Linked DNA regions of Homo sapiens: region 1 is linked to region 2. The links come from fine-mapping of genetic effects on gene expression. Tissue or cell type: thyroid. Region 2 holds a variant in brackets; the other region holds the start of a gene. All regions are shown on one strand. Distances are from middle to middle.

Region 1 (12,799 bases), 160 kb before region 2:
ATGATGGCACAGGACATGGCAGGCACAGACCAAGAATTATGCTGCAAAGAAGGAGGCCATCAATTTGGGGTTAAACTATGGTAGCAGATATCAAAGAAACAAAAGTAGTTAATGGAAGTCTAAGAAGATAAAGCTACTAAAATCTAGAAGTATCAGTGAGTTGGATGAGAGATGGAGAAATGGAGAAAAAGATTTTGGCTGCTGGCCTCTACAGAAATTGGGCCTTTGGATAACAGGCATAAAATACCAGTTTAACAATGAACTGATTGACTTCTTAGATAGGAACTCATTAAACCACCCCTGGAGAACCACAGCTCCTTTTAGAAAATGAACAGGCCTCAGCTAATAATGTACCTCATAGAGATATACCTGATGATAGTAACTGAGCAGGTAGTTGAGTGGATCCTAATAACAGTTTTTCAACAATCATGGATCTACATCTAGGCAGCTTATTAAAGCTCATTCATATCTTCACACTCTATAGTATCTCCAAAAGATAAATTGCATATGTTGAATAAGGGATGTATTAAGGGATTCCCTGGCTGGGCATGGTGGCTTACACCTGTAATTCCAGCACTTTGGGAGGCCAAGGCAGGTGGATCATTTGAGGTCAGGACAACATGGTGAAACCCCGTCTCTACTAAAACTACAAAAATTAGCCAGGCATGGTGGCAAAGCCTGTAATCCCAGATACCTGGGAGGCTGAGGTAGGAGAACTGCTTGAACCTGGGAGGCAGAGGTTGCAGTGAGCCAAGATAGCACCAATGCACTCCAGCCTGGGAGACAGAGTTAGACTCTGTGCCAAAAAAAAAAAAAAAAAAAAGGGGGATTCCCTTGGACCTTTTCTAAAGTTAATTTCTCAAGCTGCAAAGAATAATTCAAGTACATAGCTAAAAGCTCAGTCTCTTGCCCAATCTACTGTTGATGTCCTAGAAGCTTGCAAAGATGCAGATTGATGGTACAGTGTTTTACACAGAACACCAGATTGGCAATAACTAAGAAGGTGGTAGTTTATCCCATCCTTTCAATTTGCTTCCAGAGTGAACCTTCTGCGTTCCAACACCTGTTCTCTACTCTTCTTTTTATATCTGCTGGGGTATGGTGGTCTTTAAATTGTGTTTTTACCCTAGCTGGAAATAAGTTGATTTTTAAAAAATATACATGGATTTTAACTCCTTGTCTCCCATCTAGAGAAGCATGTTGAAGAACAGTGTCAAACTGAAGTTGGTATTTGAAGTATGAAGCAACTTTAACAGCTAACATGTATTGAGTGTTCACTCTGTCTCAGGTAAATCAGTCTCACATGAGGAAGGTGATATAACCTACATTTTGCAGATTAAGGAATAGGGATTCCAAAAGTCAAATGATAATGTACAGTTAGTGAGTGACATGCACGGGATTTAAAAGCAGGATTTTGACTTTCAAGTTTAGGATTTTAAGCCCCACACTGTACTGCCTCTCAGCACAAGACAGACAGACACAACAGACTTTGTGCCTTTGACCGCCTCTCTTCTTTTCCTCTTTGGTGTCCCTCTGTGCCACTACCAGAGCTTAGCATACTGTTGGGAATATCTGGACTGGAGGCCTGCTCTTGGTCCAGATCAAACAGAGAAATGGGAAGCAGCATAAAATAGTTAATGTCTGTCCAACTGTGCTACTGATTCTTTGATTTGTTTCCTCCTTCTTCTGTAAGATACTCTTTGCTCTGAGTGAGAGGTCCCAAAGACCTTGTTTTTCAGTGGCTACTGTACATTTTATAGAGTTGTATTCTGCTGGAATATTATGCCACAGGAGTCTACTGAATTGGGCTTTATATTAACCTCATTCATCTTTGGATAGGTTCTTGTTACAGGGGACAAATATAACCAAAGACTTCTTATCATATAGAAGCTTTTGGTTTTGCAATCATTGGCCTTTAAAGAGTTTTTTGAGGTAGCATTTTGTTTCTTTTGTCTTCTCTCCTCTAGTCAGTATTCCTGAAGCAACAAAAGTGAAATGTAGCTCCAAGTTTAGTTTAAAATAAACTGAGTTTATTTTTCCTATTTGTATTTCTAGGGAAGTTGGACCAGAAAACATGTTATGAAGTTGGTTTCGTGATTTAGTACATCAAAGCCTTTTTATATTAGACTTACAGGCTAGAGAAAGACAGAAAACAGAGAACACAGAAGTTACATTTTACAGTTTTCAGATCATTTTAAGACTATAATAAAGTTATGTTAATGCATTCTCAGACTTTTTGGTAAAGGTATATTTTCAAAAATCTAATAATACAATCTTTAAATAAACTTATTTAATCATAGTATATTTTTATCTATTTCACTTTAAGTATGAATATTAAAATTGGAAAAATATATATGCATATGTGAGTTTACATAATGACAGTGATATTATTTCATGCTTCTCTTTTCCTACTTAATTATGCAAACTATCCTTTGAAACCTGAAATGATTGTATAAGCACTGCATAATAGCTACACAAAAATAATGTGGAATTTTAATTCATGAATATACAAATTGGGAACAGAATTGGACAAAACAGGGGGGAAAAGGATAAAAAGACAATCTGCTCTAAGTCTTGTCTTTGAGTCTGTGACCTTAGATAAATTTATTTGTATTCTGTAAGATACAGGCAAAAACTGCCCCCTACCTATCTTTTGGAGCTGCTGCAAGATTTATTAAACTAGGGGGAAAAATGCAAAACAAAAACTGTTTAGAGGTGTGATGAGACAGAGGGTACACAAATCCAAGATAGTTTTGTTATCTCCAACGGGTGTCCAAGGTAGAATTAACTTTCATAACATCCTTATGAGTTAGGTAGATAATCTTAGCCCTGTTTTTAAAGATAAGAGGGCTTATGTGCTCCTACTAACACCACTTAGATTGGGTGTATGAGAACGGGTACAATTACTGGATTCAGAGCTAGGTCTGTATTTGTTGATACCTGAAAGTATTTTAAGGGACAGATTTTAAAAATCCCATCATTCTGTTGGCAGGCAATGAGAATAGCCTGCATATTATTCTCCCCAGTTTTCTTTCTGTGGTTCTTCATGAAATTGATCTGAAATGCAAGACAAGACACTTTGTCTCAATGGTATCCAAGGGGAGCCAAATATTTTGAGAACTATTAAAAGACATTGTTCAAACGATGAGGCATATAAATGTGATTTAGTGCAAACTGAAGCCAAAGTAGCCATCAAAAATCAAGAGACTTAGGAAAAAGGGAAGACAAAAAACCAATGAGACAGTTAACCTGTAGCTTATGCTGTAAGATTATGTGGGGAGTGGTTATAACATTCTCTTTAACATTACTTCCCACACACAAAATAAAAGCAAATAGAAATGGGGAGTATATATATTCCCCTCAGCCTAAAAAAAGTGCACACTTGTTCCCAAAATTGCTTGCTCAGCATTACTAAAAATGTTTCAAGCCAATTAGAGTGCCTGACACATAGAAAATCATCAATAAGTGTTATCTGTTATTAGTTGGATTTGGAGTAAAACAGTATTTCATAAAATCAAGAACATACTGGGAATAAGAATGCCTACGTAGAAACCTTGTCTCTTTGCACTAATTGCTGTGTGACCCTAGTTACTTAATATCATCTGTGAAGTGGGGAGAATGATAGTACTTATGTGATATAAGCTTTGTAAAAAAAAAAAAAAAAAAAAAAAGGCATGAGCTGGTACATTTAAACTCCATAGCATAGTTTCTGGCATAGAGTATATATCTGATTTACAAAGTACTAGTTACTAAGAGTTGTGCTCCTAGGCTTGTTATACTGGTGCCACCCAGCTAACCAGCCATTATTTATTGAGCACTTAATTAACTAGGCACTGAAAGAAATGTTGAAATGAGGTTAATGTTGAAAATAAATGTTGAAATAAGGAGCACAGGGCCTTTATCCACATGTGGATTTTTTGGAAGTTATTAACAAAAAACAGGTTTAAGTAAAATAATTAAATGCTGTAATATACGCTTAGAAAGATCTGGCAAGAGATTGATACAGAAAATGTGGAATAAATTTCTTCTGTAGGCAGAGGTTCAGGAAAAGTCTCTCTAAGGTTGTATATTTAAAGTGAAGGTCTCAAAAAAGAGGAGTCAGCCATATGAAGTGGGGTTGGACGGTGGACGTTCTAGGCAGGCGGAACAGCATGTGCAAAGGTCACGAATTGGAAAAAACTGGGCACATCAGCGAAAAGGATAGCCCCTAATGGTTGGCGTATTAGGATGAGGGTAGAGAATCCTGCCAAATGTGATGGAGAAGTGAGTACTTGGTCAGCCATGGTAAGGAGTTTGGATATTATTCTGTTTGTGATGGTAAGCTGGCAGGAAGTATTAAGCAGTTACAATAAATTATATTTTTTATCCTTTTGAAAGACTACTTTTGCTGCCTTGTAGGGCAGAGTGTCCACACTTTTTTGATTGTGCACACCAATCAGTATACAATGACTAAATGTTCATATTCTTTGTCTTTCTGCCTCTGCTTCTTTCTCTATCTGCTTCTGTCTCTCTCTTTATACATATATATGCATATATATGAATATATATACATATGTTTATATTGTATATAAAACTGTATATAACATAGGTATATTAATCAATAATTAAATATTTTAGCAAGGCTAAATTTTAATCTTTCTGATTAAAACTAAATATATCACCAAATTCTATTATTTTCATCTTGCACAAAAATGGATCACCTGAGTGTGCTTGTGCCCTTGTACTTGTGTCATCTTTGGAGATGACTATTGGAGAGAAGGAACGGAACAGTGCAATTATGGAGTAGAGTGAGCAGTAAGAGGCTGTTGTGGTAGTCCAGATGAGAAATGATGATAACTTAGATGAAGTCGTGGCATATTTGTCACGTGCACAATGAAAAGACTCCTTATTGGAATTACAGATTTATGTTCTCTACTAGCCTTTGATATCAATTACTTTCCTAACAAATGACTCATTCTTATTATATTATATTAATAAAAATCTATTGGATTGCTTAGTGGGTTGTTGGATTGAAAACATCTTGAAATAGACTCCCCTCCATGATTAGCCTATTTATTGGAGTCTTCTAGATAAGGGGAATAATTTAGGAAATTACTGGTACTTTCCGCTTCTGTTTGTTGGCAAAAGTAAACGGGGAGCAGAGCCATAAGAAATAAAATGAATCCATCTATCTACATATGAACAATACGGCTTGCAGCCAATGTCATCCACACTTGTGTAACTTCTGTCTCAAATGAATAATTAAAATCAGGCATTAAAAACTTGCCTGCTCTCTATGAACTCCCAGCAAATGGACTGCAAATGCTTTCATTTTAAAGGGATCATTCTGACAGGTGTGTTTGAAAAGAGGTTGTAAATTCTGGGAAGGAAAAATCTACTCTACTTGTACGAGCATTCTTCAGGAAGCGCTTCCATTTTGAAACCAAAATAACATAAATGGTGGTAGGGCAATGATAGACTAAAGCCAGGAAATCTGAATCCACTAATGTCTTCTTTTCCATTTTGCTTCTTCCAGCCTATATTTGGATGATAATTTATTTGGGTTCTGATTCTTTAATCTGCTTTTCCTTTCTTGGAGGAATTCCCATGTACTTATCCAGACTGGAAAGGAGGTTAGCAGGGCATAGAAAGAAGTCATTAAGTAAATGATCCTGCAAAGCTCTAAAAACCTTTCTGAGGAAAGAAAAAACTACCGCTCTGGGTTTTGACAAAGAACATTTGCAATTTGAGGAGGAGAGAGGACCTCTGGCTCTCCTCTCCTCCATCTAGAGGCCATAGCCTGCCAGACAGCCTTTCTGTTTTGGAGGATTCAGGCATAAAGGAGCTTTTGCTTGTATTTCTTCTTTAACGACAAACAGGACACTCTTTTAGGTCCTTTTAGGTACTCAAGTTTAATGGCTGAGAAGCCTGCCCTCCTTGCATTTGCACTTTTTCTGCGCTGGTCGTAAGAACAAGAACTTAGGCCGATATTTTACAACACCTCTCTGGATTGGATTGATATAACAGACGTTTTCTTGGACATTAGAAAGAATTTCATTAATTGAAGAGTAATTATCACTCTGTATTACTTTGAACTTGGCCTCATCGCAAACACGGTATACAGATTTTTCAGTGAGGTTATTATTCTAGTATGAAAATGAACAAAAATGTAACTAGAAACTGGAATCGGTACTATTTTGTTGTGTCATTCATTTATTCAATCAGTAAATATTCATTAAATAATGTAATAACATGTACCTAAGAGAATATTACGTATATGAAGACTGCAAAGAAATCTGAAACCATTTCAACCCTTAGAAGCAAACTGTCTACTTTAAAAAGGATTGGATTTTGAGAAATCCTTTGCCGTTTTCAAAGCCCATTCACCTGCTATAAATCTTCATCTGAACTTACGAATAGTAGCAGGGTGCTAGGCTGGGCAGATACTATAATCATACAATTATAGAATTTTAGGAGCGGAAGGGATTTTAAAGGTCATCTAATGTGACCATTTAATTTTAAAGCTTAGGAAGCTGACAGATTGTGATTTGTCTGAGGTCCCAAAGCAAACCAGTGGCAGAGCACCATCACAGACTTGCTATTAGGGATCTCAAAGCATGTGGCAGTAGCACTGGGCCAGGCACCAAGTGACACAGAATAACTATAAGTACTGTGCCTCCTTTCCTGTATTTATTTGTTATGCAGATATGCATTAGACTCACAATAAATATTTATTGAACTAATGACTGGCAGATTTCCTCCCATGTAGGGTACTGTGCCACGTACTGAGGAAAATGGTAAACAAAAAACAGGTCACTTCCTCCAAGTTGCTCGAAATTTGATCTTCCTGTCCTCAATGAGTTTGCAGTCTCTTAGGGAAACCAAGATATATACGCTTAAAAAACGCGTAGTGGAAAGCGTTTTCTTAAATATGATTGCATGCAGGAAGATTGGGTTCAAATTCAGTGAATGCTTTAGGAGGTTAGGAGAGAAATCTAAGCGTTAAAATTGATGGGAAAAAAAATCCCCCAAACTAACACACACACACACACACACACACACACACTCACACACGAGATCATTTAATTACATCACTCTCTGCTGCTGCCTTTCCGGGATCTCCCCCCAGGCTGGGACACACAGGCTCTGCTGCGGGTAAGGTCAAGATGCCAACTCAGGAAGCATAAGAGAGGGAAGGAGCAGAAGCCCACCCATCCCTATCTCCTCAACTAGAAAAGACCAGAAAGACGGAGAAAAAAGGAAACAGCAACATAGACTCATAGAAACAATAAAGCAGGAATAGGAAGCTCCCGACACATCGACTGCTCCGGGAGCCCGGGGTCGACCGCCCCCGCGGGCAGGGTGCGCGGACTCAGCGCCGGGACCCGCGGCCGCGGGGGCGCAGAGTGGGCGGCGGGGAGAGGCGGCGGCAGCGCCTGCGAGGCCGAGGGGAGGTCGCCGGCGGCGCCTCCAGCGCCCGGAGACCCGGTGCGCAGCGCAGCTCGGCCGCGGGACGCGGCGCCCGGAGTCCCGGCAGCGCCTGCCCTCCCTCCCGCGTCGCCCGCCAGCGCCCGCGCCCGCTCCGCCAGTGACTTCAGCTCAGCTCCACCCCCGCGCGGCGGCGGCTCGCTCCGTCCGGACCCGCGCTCGGCACAAGCCCAGCCCGGGCAAGCGGCCGCCACCTGCCCGGCGCCGCCTCCGCCCGCCCCCACCGCGGCGCAACTTGGATGGAGTTGGGGTCCTGAGCGCCGGCCCCCCACAGCCGCCAGCGCAGAGCTCGTGCCGCCACCTTCGTTCTGGGACCCCTCTCTCCGCTGCTCTTCGCTCCCGCGATGGGAAAAGTTGGCGCCGGCGGCGGCTCCCAAGCCCGGCTGAGCGCGCTCCTCGCCGGCGCGGGGCTCTTGATCCTCTGCGCCCCGGGCGTCTGCGGCGGCGGCTCCTGCTGCCCCTCGCCGCACCCCAGCTCCGCTCCACGCTCGGCCTCGACCCCTAGGGGCTTTTCCCACCAGGGGCGGCCAGGCAGGGCTCCTGCCACGCCCCTGCCCCTCGTAGTGCGTCCCCTGTTCTCAGTGGCCCCCGGGGACCGAGCGCTATCCCTGGAGCGGGCTCGGGGCACTGGGGCATCCATGGCGGTTGCTGCACGCTCCGGCCGGAGGAGACGGAGCGGAGCGGATCAGGAGAAGGCAGAACGGGGAGAGGGCGCGAGTCGGAGCCCCCGGGGAGTGCTAAGAGATGGAGGGCAGCAGGAGCCTGGGACTCGGGAGCGGGACCCGGACAAAGCCACCCGCTTCCGGATGGAGGAGCTGAGACTGACCAGCACCACGTTTGCGCTGACGGGAGACTCAGCACACAACCAAGCCATGGTCCACTGGTCTGGCCACAACAGCAGCGTGAGTAGAATGGGACTGAGGGTAAAGGGGTGGAAAGATGGAAAGGGTTAAAGTCGGCTGTGTGATCTGATGGAGAATTGGGGGGAAATAGGGTTTCTGGACATGGGAGATGCTGCAAACTGGTCTCTGCCCACTTCCCCCAAGAGTTAACATCACCTACTAGGAGACCAACCTCCCCATCTCTCCCACCAACACCATCAGAGTCCTCTCCAAATGCCACAGCTTCAAACTGAGGAGTCAAATCCCTATTTCCTGTTGCCTTGGTCGCATTGGTGTGTGGAACTGAAGACCAGGTAAACAGAGGGGTTAAAGTTCTCCTAATACAGAGATGAAAGGGTTAAATTTCCAGGCAAGCTGACATCCCCTCAAGTGACTTTCCCTTTACTTGCCAGACCTATGTACTGGCTCAAAGAAGATTAAGAAGACCCATATATGTAGGCGTTTTATTTTATTTTATTTTAATTTCATGCGGAGCTCCTAACCCCTTCTTCTCCACAAGGGAGAACTGCAGTGGAGAGTATATAAGGTGTTCTTTAGTGTATCCTCTGCTTTAGGGACCAAGTGGATGCAAGTTTCAGGGCAGGAACTCTCCAGCATCTTCTAACAGCGCTAAGCGAGGGTGTTTTGAGAACTGGGGCTTTCCAGCCCGTGAATGAGCGGTTGTTCTCTGGCATGGTCAGTCCCAGGAAGATCAGATATATCCCAGTGACAACAACTCCCTGTTCTCCCCCATTGCCTGACCTCCTCTAATGAAGAGCACAAATAAAGACTTAACATTCCCTTTATGAAGGCAGGAAAGGGATTGCTCAATTCCAGGAGGCTGGATTCCAGGGGACTTAGGATGCAAGTCCATGAGCTTTGGTCCTATCAGGAAAGGTTTTAGATTTTCAGAAAAGCTTGCATGTCTGCAATCTGAGGGAGCTATTCCTGTTTAAATTGAACCTAGAAACTTCAGTGAGTTGAAATAGTAGAGAACCAGCTTTGATTGTAATAACTAAAAGTGATTTTAAAGTGTGGAAACTTCTCCAGACATAGACAAGAACATAACAACCAAGGATGGGTAAAATGGGGGAAAAAAATTTCAAGTTTTACAGCTTCAACCAGGTAATTGAGATTGTAGTGTTTGTAATATGCACAATTTACGCAGTCTGGAACCTTTCAAAACGTTTTCTGTTGTGATGTAATTCCCAGAAACCTTCCCAGAGAAGTGCCACTTTAGTGAGTTGTGCTCATTGTCAGCTTTTTAATGAGAGTTGTGAACATTTTAAAATACTAATCTGTCATCATGAATTCCTTGGGTACACAGATATAAATTGTATTAAGGCACATCATGATAGATAATATTTAGCATTGATGTATCTGTCCTGAGAGTAGTAGCAGGGTTTTCCCTACAATTCCTCCTTCATGACAGAGTCTGTGATTTTATATGGTTCTCAGGAGTGGTTTGATCAAATAAATGAAGCTGAAATTCTTTCCATTCAAGTTCTGGAGACCCTTGCCCTCATTCCTTACCTTAACCATTATATCTTTCATATCATAGCCACTAAAATTAATCCTCTAATTTGAACTCGAATCTTCTTAAACTGATTGAATAACTTTCACACTGCTTTAAGTGATTAACTCAAAGCTTCTGGCTTTAAGGGGAGATTTGAAACACATCAAACATGTTAGCTCTTGTTGTATTAAGAAGTAAAAGACTTTGGACTCAGAATGTTTCTGGCTTTTAATGTAATTCAAGCTGTAAAATATCACTCACCCATTAGACCTCTTCTTTTAGCTCATCTCTTGAAAGATCTTGGAAAGAAAGAGAAAAGTAGAATACATCTTTGGCAAATTTTTAACCTCCGTTTAGGAAATGGTGCCAAGCACTGCCAGCATTAAAAAATAATAATAAATGGTGCTTATAATTCTAGTAGGGCTTATTAGGTTCAGGGCATTGAACATGCAGGCAGGTCTGAGATAACGTAGGAAATGAGGTGATGAGTGTTAAAGTTTTGATCACTCAAATCATGTTAACTAATGAGGTGAGATTTCTGCCCCCTGAAGTCTCTTATTCCATAAAGACCTCTGCTGACCCAGTCTCTGCTCTGGTCATCACACACAAAGGTGTTTCTTCTTTTTCTTTTTTAAGTATATACATACAGATAGTGGAGAAAGAGAAATAGTCTTTATCTATGTCCTCCAAAACAAAGCCAGTCCTACGTATCTGGACCAGACTCAGAGAAAGTTTAAAATATTTTTTAAAGGGAAAGAAAGCATAAATAAACTTTTTTTTTTTGGCCGTTTTGTAGAATGCAAAGCAGAGTGGAGACCTGAATTCTAGTTCTGCTTATTTGTGGTTTGACCGAGGCAAGTTGAGTGTCCGCTGAATGTGGATTTTTTCATCTCTAAAGTGGGGGCTATGCCGGTCAGATTAACTACAGAGAATTAGGAGCCAGGCTATACATAAGAGGGCAGTGTGACTTTACAGCCTCATACACTTGTTTGGAACTCTCAACAGCACTTCACTTTACCCCAGGGTGGGAAATCCACTAATTTAAACCCGAGGGCCAGATTGGAGTGGTGGAGGGGCATGGGGGACTCTTATCTTTTCACATTTAGATGTCCTCCCCTATAAATCTGCCCCCAGACCCATTCAGGACCACAGGCAGTGCACATCCTGTGAACCCTTCTCACCTTTAGCAAAAAGCCTTTGCTATGAAGAGTCTCTGATTATGACAACACCTGCATTCAAGGTGCAAATGCATGGTAATTATAGGCTGCTTGTCAATCTGGTGAGGAATTCTGGATGGTTCACTCACCTCCTTCCCTTCACTTTCCTGCCCCCTCAGCTGTTGGACTTGAGCAGTTGTATAAAGACATGTCTGTTTTGCCTCGTCTGTGGGTGTGATGTGATTCCTCTGTACTGCAGTCTCGATTGATGGAAACTGTTGCTAGAGTTGGTGGAACACCTGGGGGGATCTTCTGGCATGAAAGGTGCTGGGTATGAATCATTTGTCATGAGCTTGGTGTCGTAAGCAAGAACATATTGTTCCCACCCTACTCATCCCAGGCATGCTGTGCCCTGATCTAAATTTATATAGTAATCCTTAGAGTGTTAAAATATATATTTGCCTTTATATGTATGCATAATGGTGTATGTGTTTATTCCTTATTTCCAAGGGATTTTAAAGTGCTGTAGCATTAATCTTTATAAAATCCTTTGTAGGTAGTAAGTAGGTGACGGGTGTTAATATCTCTTTTTCATATTTTTATGCCGGAGTTAAGTTTAGTATTTCAATTCACCACTCTGCCCCTTTCTCACTGGCAATTGTATTACAAGATTTGTTAACAGAGGGTTTTACTTGACTTCTATTTTTCCATGATGACATCTTTAATGTTACATTTCTCATAGCACATGATGGACTGCTTGATTTCTGTGTACCTCTTTGCTTCTAGTTGTTCTGGGATTTGACATTTACCATCCAACATTAGTGAATAAATTGAGTCCCAATCTGGGCCAACTTTTGGGGTAGATGCTTTACATTCATCATCTCACTTAATTTTTCACAGAAATGTCATGTGTAGGTGTTATTATTGTCATTACATACAGGAGGAAACTGAGGTTCCAAGAGGCTAAATGAATTGCCAAATAGACACAGGAGGTCAGTGGCAGAACAGAGACTGTCACCCAAAGTGATCCTATTCCCAGACTGCACAGAAGGGCTTGTTCAATGGACTTTAAAGTAGGACGGAAAAACTCAGACCTTTTGGAGTTTATATTTTAGATAATCCTATCTTGAGTTGATTTCTGATGATGGTGGAGGAGGACGTACTCTTAGCTGGAAGCTCCATCTCCTTGTAGAAAAGCGAGGACATTAACATGTGCCTGTCACATTGCACCCTTTACCTTAAGTAGTGCTTTGGTTGTTCTCTCATCCACCCACCTCTTCATCTTCAGTGAGACATGGAATCTGCACCTGGTGATTCAGTGAGCAAGAGGTAACCTGCGATCATTCAGCTTTCAGCTCAGTTGTTCCTCAGGAATAGATTCCTTTTCTAATTTAATGGCAAATCTGATATTATAGACACACTGGCTGTGAATGCTTGACTTGGCTATACATTTTGATACAGTTTTTTTTTTTCGGTGGGGAGGAGCTGACCTTTTAAAAAGTAAAATGATGAAAGATTTTAGCTTTCTCTAGCAAGTCCACGTAATTCCTTCTCTCAGTACTTAATGCTATATGAATGCTAATGTGGTGTGATTTGGAAGGCAATGGGTTTGAAATCAAACAGATTTGAGTTTGAATCTTAGTTGTCCTGCTAAATCAGCACGTTGCCTTGAGTAAGTCACTTAAATTCTTTGAGCCTGAGTCTCCCCATCTAAAATATGGGGATAGTATATCTTTCGGAGGTTTTTTCCTCAGGAGGCGACATCGTGGATACAAAGT
Region 2 (12,799 bases):
TCCTTGCAAAGAATTCATCCTGACCCTAAGCATGGGATATTGATTCAGTAATATATTCTCTTAGTAGTTGCAAGGGAAGGGTGATCCTGACCATATTCCAACCACAATTGGCTATTCCTTCCTTTAGGAATTCATATCAGCATCCTTAGAGGGAGAAAAGAATGTGGTTTAAGAATATGTACATATTCAAACTCATCAAATTGTATGCAATAAGTTTATGTGGTGAAAAGGTAAATTTAAAAAAGTAAAACTTTTTTTCTCTAGAAATTCTGTAAAATATCTTCAAACGTGAATGTCCATCAGAGTTATTTGGAGGGCTTTTTAAAACACAGACTGCTGGGTTCCACCTCCAGCATTTTTAAATTTTGGTATTGGACCAGACAATTTGCATTTCTAACAGATTCCCAGGTTATGCAGATGCTGTAGGTCCAGGGGCCGCACTTTGAGAACTGCTGCTATAACATAACAGAAAGCAAGGGAATTCGGTTCCATTTTGGCTGTGACCTAAAGGAGGAAAGAAGCATTTTGGCAATTCCTAGTTTCTCATTTTGCCATAGAAAACTTTGCAAACTTTTGACACCTTGAAACATTTTAACAGCTCTAAAGTATCCACAAAAATGGACAGTGGCCCCCACAAGAGGGCTGATGCCCTGCAACACTAAGCAAAGGCCAGAAAAAAAGCTGGAAGATGTTTTCTTCCTTCTCCCCTATTTTGTTTCTTTCTCTCTCTCTCTCTCTCTCTTTTTTTCTTTTCTTTTTTTTTTTTTTTTTTTGACGCAGGGTCTCCCTCTGTCTGGTCCAGGCTGGAATGCAGTGGCATGATCTTGGCTCACCGCAACCTCTGCCTCCCAGGTTCAAGCAATTCTCCTGCCTCAGCCACCCAAGTAGCTGGGACTACAGGCATGCGCCACCACACCCAGCTAATTTTGTATTTTTAGTAGAGACGGGGTTTCACCATGTTGGCCAGGATGATCTCGATCTCTTGTCCTTGTGATCTGCCTGCCTCAGCCTCGAGTCCTGGGATTACAGGCATGAGCCACTGTGCCCGGCCTTTTCTCTCTTTTTAAGCCCCCTCCAAGGGTAGCCAGAAATAACTGGGTGGGCCTTCTCTGTGGCAATCTAGAGATTCTAAATTAGCAGGAACTAGAGTCAAGAGTCACTTGGGTGACTCATTTTTACAGACCTTTTAAACCATGATAAGCTTGTTAGAAACAAAATCTTCAACAACCTGGTTCTGTATCCTTGTAGCATGAGGAGGTCAGACACGCTGGCAGGAGGAGTCCTGGAGGGAATTTATGGTGTCATTGCACAGTGGATGTTTTATTTAATTCTGTCTTCCAACCACTGGCCAAAGGTAGCCTACAAGCTGAGGTGGTTCTGGATGCTAATAAATATCCCTAAAGAGCTCTTTAGGTTTCATCTAGGCTTAATTACAATGTGTAAATACAAAGACAGCCCCATTATTGATGTTAATCCTACTGATACTGCAGGAAGGGAGAGAACAGCAATGAAATAAAATACAATGGACAATGGTCTCTTATTAGCCTACTCAAAGAAAAAGTGAGTCTCCTGCTGGCTATCTGTGTGTGACTCCAGGTTAACCCAGATCTGATTACCTTCTGCTTGGTGTCAGGTTCCATCTCAGTGCTCAGTGGAGTTCCTGGCTAGATCTGAAACCTTTCCACGCCATTTATTTTAACTTCTGCAAGGTTTCTTGCTGAATTTCAGTGAAACCTGGACTCGGTTAAATGTGACCCACATTACCCAACTTTTCCTAGTAGCTTGATCCCTTGCCCTACCTCTTCCAAACATACTTAAGGCAGGTGAATTTTAGTTTTGTGAAGGGAGCCTGCCAAAAGCCAAGGGGCAGTGTTCAGACTTTCTATTTGTTTATTTATTCAACATTAATTAGCTACCAACTGTGTACCAGGTACTCTACAAGCCCCTAGGGATATGGAATTGAATGCTGTTTCCTCGACCTTAAGGAACTCCACCAAGGGAGAAAATTGGACACATTGACAGATAATAGGAGGCCAAGACATGAAGTGGCATTAAGGAGGTGTAGAAGAGAAACAAGCAACTCAACCTGGAAGAGACAGGTGCAGACATCTTAGTGGAGTTCATAGCTTAGGATGCATCCTTCATATTTGGTAAGAGTTAAGGAAATGGGGAAAGAGAGGAGCTAGCCAAAACATGCACAATGTTATAAATAAAAGTATAAAGATGATAAATCCCATGGTATCTGTGGGGAACTATAGGATTAAGAAAGTGATGGAGGAAAAGGGTCACAGTGAGTTAACAGTCCTTCTGTACCAGGTTCTGTTTACAAAGTAGTGGTGGAACATGTGGACACTAGAGGCAGATTACCTTAGTTCCAATTCTGATTGTTCCATGAGCTAGTTCTATGACACTGGACAAGTAACTTCACCTCTCTGTGCAGGTTCCTTAACCTCTTCATGTCTCAATCTTCACCTGTAAAATGAGGATGATGATATCTTTCTCATAGCTATGGTGAAAATAAAAGTTAATATATAAAAAGTGCTAGCATAATAAAAGCTAAATGAATACTAGCTATTATTATTTATTATCAAACACTTATGTATCATGTCCATTATTCCCACCAAAAATCCTATGAGCTGTGAGCATCCCTGTGTGAATTTTTTTTCCTCAAGCCTGTTCAACTCCAGCACTTTGGCTTTTAATTGTTATACTACACTGCAGTTCTGCAAACCTCTGCTGACATATCTCAAATGTCTAGCCATAAAGATGGGAAGAGGGTGTGAGGGATGAGACTGGATTGATACCCAAGGCTATTCCTTGAGGCTAAACCACAACTTGGAAAATGGAAGGAAAGCGTGAAATTGCAACTAAGCAAAAATGTCCCTGTTTCAGTCTTAGACAAGGTCTTGGAGGAACTCACGAAAAAAAATCTGCTGCAATAACAGTTGATTCTACCTGTTGTCTGGGCACATTTGAACATGTTATCTTCGAGGAACTGCTTCTGATGTTAAAAATTACTAAAAAAATGATAAAACAGTAAACATACTTGTGGGCTTTTCTTTTCTTTTAGAAATAAAGATCTCCTTATTTCACCAGTCCTTACAAATATAAAATTGTGATATATCAATATTTAAATAGACAACCTTGTGATCTAGTGTTTTATAACCCAGAATATTCCAGGTATGGCAAATTAGCTGGTTCTTTACTTAGGATCTCCATGGCATACAGTAAAACAGCCTGGGGATAGAGAACCCCCATATACAGCAAATGGCTTTTGGTGTTTGGGGAGGTTAAAAATAAGTAGGAGAATTGTAAGGAGAAGGTGAAACATTCTGTCTGTTCTCTTGTATTATCTGACAAATCTCTAGGCATCTCATTGGTCTCCAGTTTTGCAAGAGGTAACTTGTCCAGTTCTTTGGAGCATTGGAATTCTGCAAGGAGTTGTGGATAGCTGTGAAGTAAACCTTGTGGCTGTTAATGATTGAACAAGAGTCCATGTAGCATCTAATGGAGTGATCATTGGGTAGCTTGCAGGGCAGAAGCAAAGACACAGCATTTACAAGAGAAGGAGAGCAATTGTTTGAGGTTTGCATGAATTTGTCTGGAGACAAACATGCTTTTCTCCCTTTTATGTGGAAGGTCGTGTTTCTTATCATCTGCTCTTGATGAGTTTAATCACTACATTCCATTGCAGACTTTCAATTATTCCCCCATAGGAGGCGGCATTGGCATAAGAAGTGAAAAGTGGTTTAAGGAATACGAACTGACAAGTTTTCAATGCTGTGGATAATGCTCTGTGAAAGGGAGAGTGGGTCTAAAACAGACCCAAGAAAGAGGGCTTTATTTTGTCCACAGCCAAAAAGTTAAGAGGTCCATAAAGGAAGCTGCTATTTATCAGTCACCTGTCAGCATTACTTGGTGATTAGGGCAGAATTATTATTATTTTCTTTCCTTCTGAGGTTCCTGTCCTCCTGCTCATCCCAGTGTGTGGGAATTGCCTTCATCCGTCTAGGCAGATCTTACAGCATGTTGAAGAATCACAAGGCTTGGCTCCATGTGGTTCAGTTGACTTATGCATTTTCTGGTGGAGCATGTGAAAAAATCACTGTGTTCCTGTCTCAGTGGGGTGATATCTGGTTTGAAAGCTCTGTGAGAGAAACTGAAATTATCTGCAAGACACATTCACTATAGCGGAAAAGAAGCCATGCAGGACACCTCTGCCAATAGACACTGCGATTGCCTGTTATCTCCATTGGAAGCTGCTTATGAACTCGGTCTTACAAAAGGAAGGGGACCGCCAACTTATTCAGAGATCTGAGGCCTCTCAAAATGACCCACAGGCCCCACGGTTAGCTCAGTTGTTCAATCAGCTCCTATTAACTTTCCTGAGTTGGGCTGATGGTCCAAGTTTTGTGCTTTGTGGATAAGGCAAACGCCTGATGCAGCTTGACGTCACAAAGCGGTGGAGAAACACATCTGCAGGGGAGATGAACTGAGTGATGGATGTTCACCGATGCAGGATGTTTAACTGAATGGCATTTTCTTTTCCATAAAATGGAAGAACTCATTCAGAGAAACTACGGAAACAAA[A/CAAAA]AAAATAAAGTTATGCCTTGTGAGCAAGTAACTAGGCCTCAACTCAGTGGAGCATGATTAAGCATGGCTGGGATTTTCTTTCATATTCTGTCCTGCAGAGCGACTGTTTGAAAAATTTTCTGGCCCAGTGGGTTTTCAAACTTATTTAGCAGGGAACCAATTTTATAAATGAAATCTTTTGTGAAATCTCCCCTACTCCATCCTTTAGAAAGTATTAAAACAGCATTTCATTTAACAAATGTATAAGTTCATGTGCTTACAAACTCCATGGCTTCAAATATTGAAGTTATATTGATGAACAAACATTTGAAAACAGGTGTTGTGGATGACTGTTACTAATTTTAGAAATACGTTTGATGCAGTGATTAGATTCTTTTTTCAGAACTGAGACTATACTGGCTTCCATACATAGTTCCACATCATAAGTTTTTCAACAGTTCAAATTTCAATCTTAAGATATACTTCAGTTTTTCTACTAGTCTTCTTTCCATACTGAATCGGTACCAGATACACTTCTGAGTTCTGACTTGTGACCCTCCTGGGTTTCTTTTACTTCATTACTTATATTACGTATTGTCTCCCTATGCACCTATTCTTTGTCGCTCTGATAATAATTATTTGCATCTCTCAATAGGTGAAAGAGCAATTTAAAGGAAGTCAAAAAACAGGTTTCTTAGTAAGTCTAACATTTTCGTCAGAAAATACTTTTGTGCATATTATGAGATTGTGATATTTTCAATTATATATATGTTTTTAAATCTTGCGTATTTTGGTGCCTGTCCCAGCAACTACATGAAACAGAAGAATTTATTTGCTTTATATGTTGAGTACAAACTTAACTTTGAATGTCATTCCAGATATTTTATCCATAGTCCTAAACTCAATAACATTGTGTCCTGTGTTATGCTTATTTTGCTACTAAAAACTATATTCTATTTTAAGGAGAAACAGAAAAGTAGTGATTTCTCTTCTCAATTTAAACATTCATACTTGCCCTTCGTGTTGATCAGAAGAGCTGAACACTTCAGTTAAAAAATAAAAATCTGGAACTCTCTGCCCAAATAATTCTAAAATGTCTGTGATTTGTGAACAGTATATATTGTATTGTCTAAGCAACTGTAATTGAAAATGGTGCTACTCCATGCAACACACAAAAACAGCCTGATAATATCTGGGGAATAGCTTTTATAAGGGTCACAACATTTTACAGTTTTTCCTGTTGTTGCTTTTTCAACGTCTATATGCAGATGTCACTGCATTTTTGCCATACTTGATCATGTATTTGAAAAACTAATTCAGACCCTTCAGAATTTTTTTTGCATCGACGTGGAATAATTTAACCAAATAACAAATCTTCCTGGTATCTCTGTATGACCAGAACTTACCAAAGCAAACAAAATAGAGAGTTATAATAACCATTTGTTTTGTTTAGTTTTGTTTTGAGACGGAGTCTCGCTCTGTCACCAGGCTGGAGTGCAGTGGCGCAATCTTGGCTCACTGCAGCCTCCACCTCTCGGATTCAAGTGATTCCCCTGCCTGAGCAGCCCGAGCAACTGGGACGACAGGCACCCGCCACCATGCCCAGCTAATTTTTTGTATTTTTAGTAGAGACGGGGTTTCACCATGTTGGCCAGGATGATCTCGATCTCTTGACCTCGTGATCCACCCGCCTCGGCCTCCCAAAGTGCTAGGATTACAGGCATGAGCCACCGCACCCGGCCCATATAATAACCATTTTTGAGTGCTGTTGAATTCTGATGGTCTCATATAACCCAGACTTAAGCAAATTTATCCAGTATGCAGAATGTACTTTCTTAGCTCCATCTCTGAAATACATTATCAAATATTGTTTCTAATTGTACCGTTTAACACAACCTATTCATCAATCTACTTATTTCAATGACAATATTAGAGGCATTAACTTTTTGTCTGTTGTGGGAACATCTTTCATGTGATGAAGCCATTTATCTTAAATGCTACAACTGCATTTTAATCAAGGTATTTGAATTATCTTTGCACGCTCTTTTAAATAACATTTACATGTTTAGTTGTCCCAGAGAAAATTTAGAATGTATATTTGTGTTTTATATAAAAATGACCTTGTGACTTGGCTTGAACACTGCTTTGCATAATTGTACTGCATAAATTACATTGAGGGTTTGGACTTCTATCACCTTAAAAATGGAAACCAATGAAATTGTACTGTCTTTTTGAGTGGCTTTATGAAAAATACTGGCAACTCTACTATTTTATGTACTATTGAAGTTGTCACTGGCACTAGATGAAGAATCGTATGATGTTAGTATAGAAAAAACTGCCCTCTCATTTTGAATCTAATTGATGCTATCACAGTCTTTTTTAAAAAAGAATTTATTAAACTAATACTCCATTTCTAATGTGAATAATTAACCTACAATAGACAAATAAATAAATCTTTAGACAACATACAAAGCACTTTATAATATTATCATGGGAGGAGCTGAAATTTAGATCAGCACTGAAATTCTACAAGAGTATGTTGTATATTCATCACCTCCTGGCCTTTTGGCCAAGAACAAGTGAAGAATATGTTGTATGTTCGTTTGTTATTGCACAGCTATCAAGTAAGCGTAATTGGGCCTGAGCCTCGCATGGTATTCAATGGGATGTGGCCTAGAGGTGCTGAAGTGTAGTTAGTGTATTCTCTACTAGAAGGCTCATGTGTGAAGGACAAACACAGGTCTGAGTTTTTATAATGTTTTCTAAAGATTCATCCAGAATGTTCTACTTACCTATTTCTGTGTTACCAACTACCCTAAAACTTTATGGCTAAAACTCCAACATATCTTTATTTTGGTCATGAATCTTCACTTTGGGCAGGACTTGCCAGTGGCAGTTGTATGAGGCGTGAACTAGAGAGGCTCAGCGGGGGCTGGAGGATCTGTTTTCAAGATGGCTTACCCACATGACTGGTAAGATGGTACTGGCTGTTGCCTGGAAACTCAGCCAGGGGACATCTTTCCACTCCATTAGGGTCTCTCCAAAGGGTTCCTTGGGCTTCCTCACAGCATGGCAGCTCGGTTTTAAGGCAGAGTGTTCCAAAAGACAGAAGTGGAAGCTAACAGTTTGTTAATGCCTCATCTGGAAAATGGCACAGTGTCACTCCTACTGTGGTCTATTGTCAAAACAAGATCCTGCACCAGTTAAAAGGGACAAGACAAAGACCCCCTCTCTGCCTTGGGAGGAGGCCAAAGAATGTGTGACTGTCTTTAATCACCACACACAGTTACCACTTTCATAGTCAATGAACCTTTTGAAGACATTTCAAATGATTACACAGGGATTGCAGGGGAAGTTTTAGACCAAGGTTAACACAAAAACTAATTACTACAAAATTGAGAACAAACTAGATGCTAAGCGTAGGTCTAGTCGGGACATGGAGATACAAGGGAAATGACTTAACCTAGAAAAAATTAACACTTCGTCTCTGGAATGTTAAGATTTGCTATAAGCGCATTTGAGTATGTAAATTTGTTTATAATCATTGAAAAATGAAAATATAAATTTAAAAGGAATGAGAATAATAGAAGAATCTGCAGTTCTGTGGGAGGTACTATGAAAGTAACTATTTTCTTTTTTTTGAGACGGAGTCTCGCTCTGTCACCCAGGCTGGAATGCAGTGGCACAATCTCGGCTCACTGCAAGCTCCGCCTCCCAGGTTCACGCCGTTCTCCTGCCTCAGCCTCCTGAGTAGCTGGGACTACAGGCGCCCGCCACCACATCCGGCTAATTTTTTGTATTTTTAGTAGAGATGGGGTTTCACCGTGTTAGCCAGGATGGTCTCGATCTCCTGACCTCGTGATCTGCCCGCCTCGGCCTCCCAAAGTGCTGGGATTACAGGCGTGAGCCACCATGCCCGGTGGAAAGTTACTATTTTCATGTTCTCTTCTTTGAAAGTCCAATTTCTTTTGCCTTCCAGAAAGAAACAGTTCTGACTTACTACTTATTACCCTTCTGGGGTTCTTTCACCTGTTCATTACTTATATTAAATAGTGTTTCCCTGTGCCATCTATTTATTCTCTTGTTGCTCTGATTTAATACACCTGTTTTTCCTCCCTGTCTTCCTTGTTTCTTTCATTGAACAGCTGCTTTTCTAGTACCTGTCAGGTGCTAAGCACAGGGCTAGCTGGGATACAGACACAAGGATATAGGTTAAGAGCTTTTTGTCATCCATGCCTCCCTCTCTCCTGCTGCATTGTTCTACCAGGAGGACCTAGAATAGGGTTTATGGTATATTAAGGTGTCAATAAGTATGTATTGAGTACATAAATGAGAGTTCAGTCTTCAAATAACTCAAAATCTAATAGGAGAGGCATAAAGAAATAAAGCTGCTGTGCTGTGATATGTATTAAATTGGACAATGTAGGGAAATATGAAGGGGAGGTGGGTCAAAATACAGCCTAAAGATGACACACCTCAGTCCTCAACAAATTACCACAAAATCAAGAATGGGCAATTGATATAATTTTCTATCATGGTGGTATAGAAATTGAAATATTTATTGATTCCAAATAATTATAGGTTCTCATTTGGATAGTTATAGTTAGGTGTCAACAAACGAATAAAAATGGGACTGAAATCTTCATATAATTTTAATATCACAAAATATGTGAGAATCATATGCCTATTTTTGTCATTTTAAAATATTGTATGGTCCCACCTCATTAAATAAAATTTCCCCATGATTACAACAGTAAAATAATCTTATTGTGGAAAATACATAGGGTACAGAAAAGTACAAAAAAGGAAAATAAATTGTGCAGAATTTTACCAAGAGATAATTATGTTAACATTTATTATAAAGTGTACATAATATGTAGGTATTCATATGGAAAAAAGGGAATACAACTTTTAGAACATAATGCTTGTGCAGTTTTTAAAAAATTCCTGTCTTTCAGTTAAAATTTTATCTTCAGCCTTTATTTGTGAAAGTTTTCAAAAAAAACCATAATTTCTCATATCTATATGATTCCACATTTAAAATTTCTGTATTTAGAACAATCTCTAGTTTTTAAAGTTTACATAGTGTTCAGCTTTTTCTCCACCCCCATCCCTACCCCCCGCCCCCGAAAGAGACAAAGTCTCGTTCTGTCTCACCCAGCCTGGAATACAGTGGCACAATCATAGCTCACTGCAGCTTCAAACTCTTGGGCTCAAGTGATCTCTCACCCCAGCCTCCCAAAGTGCTGGGATTATAGGTGCGAGCAACCAAGCCTCTCTTGGCTTTTCATTTTCTATTATAAATAATGCCGTGATGGGATTCCCTTATGCGGAGATCTTTGACCATATCTCAATTATTTCCTTAGAGTTGATTGCTGTAGCTGGAATTTTCTTAGCTGTGACCACCCCGGGGCTCTTACTCTATATAGGCATATTGTTTTTCAGTGGTTTACATTAAAATATCTTTCCATATTGGCAGGCAACTGGAGAAAGTTTAATCAGGGCTGGATGACTTGCTGCTTTTGTTTTGTAGGGTCACTGCTTTGGCTTTCTTTAGAAATTCACTGTCACATACACGCACAGGCCCACCCACCCACACACACATACCAGCATATTTATGGGAATTTATAATTTTGTCCTTTAAAAATGCCTCGACTAGAGTGCAGATGAAAAGTTTTATATTTTTAATGATGCCAGCCTGCAGCCCAAAGTATGGACCTATAGAAGAGTATTGTAAGGAGGGCTTCCCAGAAGAGTAGCCACTTCTGGTAAATCACGAGGTTTAATCAGGAAATGATATGGTTTGGCTGTGTCCCCACCCAAATCTCACCTTGAATTGTAATAATCCCCACAAGTCAAAGGTGGGGTCAAGTGGAGATGATTGACTCATGGGGGTCATTTCCTCCATACTGTTCTGATGAGAACAGTATGAATAAGTCTCGAGATCTTGTGGTTTTATAAATGGGAGTTCCCCTGCACAACCTCTCTTGCCTGCTCCCATGGAAGACATCCTTTTGCTCTTCTTTTTCTCTCCACCATGATTGCTAGGCCTCCTCCACCATGTGGAACTGTGAGTCCACTGACCACTTTTTCTTTATAAGTTACCCAGTCTTGGGTATGTCTTCATTAGCAGTGTGATAACAGACTAATACAGGAATTACCAAAGAAGGGAACTGAAAAATGATTGTAGAGACCTGTTTAGGAATACAAACTTGGATATCAGGAGTTATTACATACAATGCCAGTAGTATTCTCTGCTTTTTTTTTTTTTTTTTTTTTTTTGAGATGGGATCACACTCTGTCGCCCAGGCTGGAGTGCAGTGGCGCAATCTCGGCTCAGTGCCAGCTCCGCCTCCCGGGTTCACGCCATTCTCCTGCCTCAGCCTTCCAAACTAGCTGGGACTACAGGCACCAGCCACCACGCCTGGCTAATTTTTTGTATTTTTAGTAGAGACGGGGTTTCACCGTGTTAGCCAGGATGATCTCGATCTCCTGACCTTGTGATCCACCCTCCTCGGCCTCCCAAAGTGCTGGGATTACAGGCATGAGCCACCGCACCCAGCCGTATTCTCTGCTTTAAAAAGGGATTTGTTGTGGATTGCTTTTGAATCATGAGTTTCTGTTATTCCCTGCCCCCTTCCTTCTTCCCAACTATTCAGGGCCATGTTAATTATGTAACAAGAGGCACACTAGTCCTGAGCCAGAGGTAGGATCTTCTCTGTGAGATGCCTTCATCTCAGGCAGCCTCCTTCACAAGGCCAGAGACTCCATCCAGAATTAGACCGACACTGCAGATAATGTCATTACCCTAAGGATTACAGTACAACATGATGACATGATGGTGCATTTTTATGGCTAGATTTTTAGATCTGAAATAGACACTAAGAATGCATTAGATCCAATATTCTGCCTTAGGCCCTTATTTAAAAGATTAATATTCTTGTTGTATGAGATAGCTAAGAGGAAGTGAGTCTGTGGATTACTACACACACACACACACACACACACACACACACACACACACACACTTATGGGAATTTATTATTCTCTCTATACACACAACACATGCATACTTTGGCTATACATAAATATACAAAATATTCTTATATTGCTACCCCATTGGAAGGATGCTGATATGAGCTGCAAATATATTACTTATGCTGCTAAGTACCTATTGTAGAACAACTTTTTTTTTTCCTTTTTGAGATGGAGTCTCACTCTGTGGCCCAGGCTGGAGTGCAGTGGTGTGATCTCAGCTCACTGTAACCTCTACCTCCCAGGTTCAGGCGATTCTCCTGCCACAGCCTCCCAAGTAGCGGGGATTACAGGCACCCACCACCATGCCTGGCTAATTTTTGTACTTTTAGTAGAGACAGGTTTCACCATGTTGGCCAGGCTGGTCTCGACCTCCTGACCGCAGGTGATCCACCTGCCTTGGCCTCCCAAAGTGCTAGGATTACAGGTGTGAGCCACCACACTCGGCCTAGAACAACTTTTTATAGTAATGAGTGGGCCCAGTGATACAAACCAAAGCTGATTTCTGTAAGACTGTCAGTCCCCTAATGGAATCTCAGTAACAACTCCCACCTTGAATGATGCATGTCAGCAATTAGTAGGACAAAAGGCATCTGGCACTTTTACATCTGTGTTTAAAAATAACCCTTGTTATTTCCTCTAGGTTTTAAAATCAGACTTGTTCCATTATGAAGAGACAATCATGGAACCTACCGGTTGCCTCTTGGTGGACACATACGACATTCTCTGTGTGGAATGCAGCCTGGATTTTCTAGGCACAATTATCTTAGTTTGCAGGTATGCAATTCCAGCAAACATACAATTCATGTAATATAGCATATTCAGGAAAGCTATGCTATGTGTTCTTACATTCTCCCAGGTTTTGGGAGCTATAGAAATGAGAACTCATTAGCTATAGTTTTTGCTTCATTATGTGCTATGTGGGCTGGAGACAGTTGCTCACAGTGAGAGAGACAAGGCATCTAATGGCCCAAAAGAGTGGCTGTTTCTCAAAGCTTCCTAAATTAGTCTCAGGTAGGAGCTTTCCCAGGCTCCTGGTCTGACACAGTAATTAAAGGAGACTGGGAAGATTCACTCATTCCATAATTATTTTTAGTTCCAATACGGTCTGACCTTACTAATTCAGAATTATTGAGAGAGATATTAGTTTGGCTTAATGAGAAGCATGAAAAATGTAACATTTTAAATTGAATCA

Alleles and levels. Positions count from the first base shown, and alleles are read on the strand shown. Sizes are in standard deviations (SD) of each study's normalised expression.
For the expression in thyroid of the gene that starts at base 7,632 in region 1, A is the low allele of the variant in region 2 and CAAAA is the other (small effect, 0.39 SD a copy in GTEx).

Evidence for each region. PIP is the estimated chance that this variant, and not a neighbour inherited with it, causes the effect.
Region 1: it holds the start of SORCS1, and the variant in region 2 is fine-mapped to the expression of SORCS1 in thyroid (GTEx, PIP above 0.99).

The regions. Positions count from the first base shown.
Region 1 is chr10:107,159,539-107,172,337 of GRCh38, reverse strand. SORCS1 (sortilin related VPS10 domain containing receptor 1) reads left to right here and starts at 7,632. Exons shown (of 26, transcript NM_052918.5): 1 at 7,632-8,369. The coding sequence starts at 7,812. RefSeq lists a silencer at 7,723-7,916.
Region 2 is chr10:107,002,228-107,015,026 of GRCh38, reverse strand. All of the region lies in intron 1 of SORCS1 (sortilin related VPS10 domain containing receptor 1), which reads left to right. Among named protein-coding and RNA genes, the nearest start is that of SORCS1, 160 kb to the left of the region's middle. The variant A/CAAAA (reference allele first, on the strand shown) is at 4,591.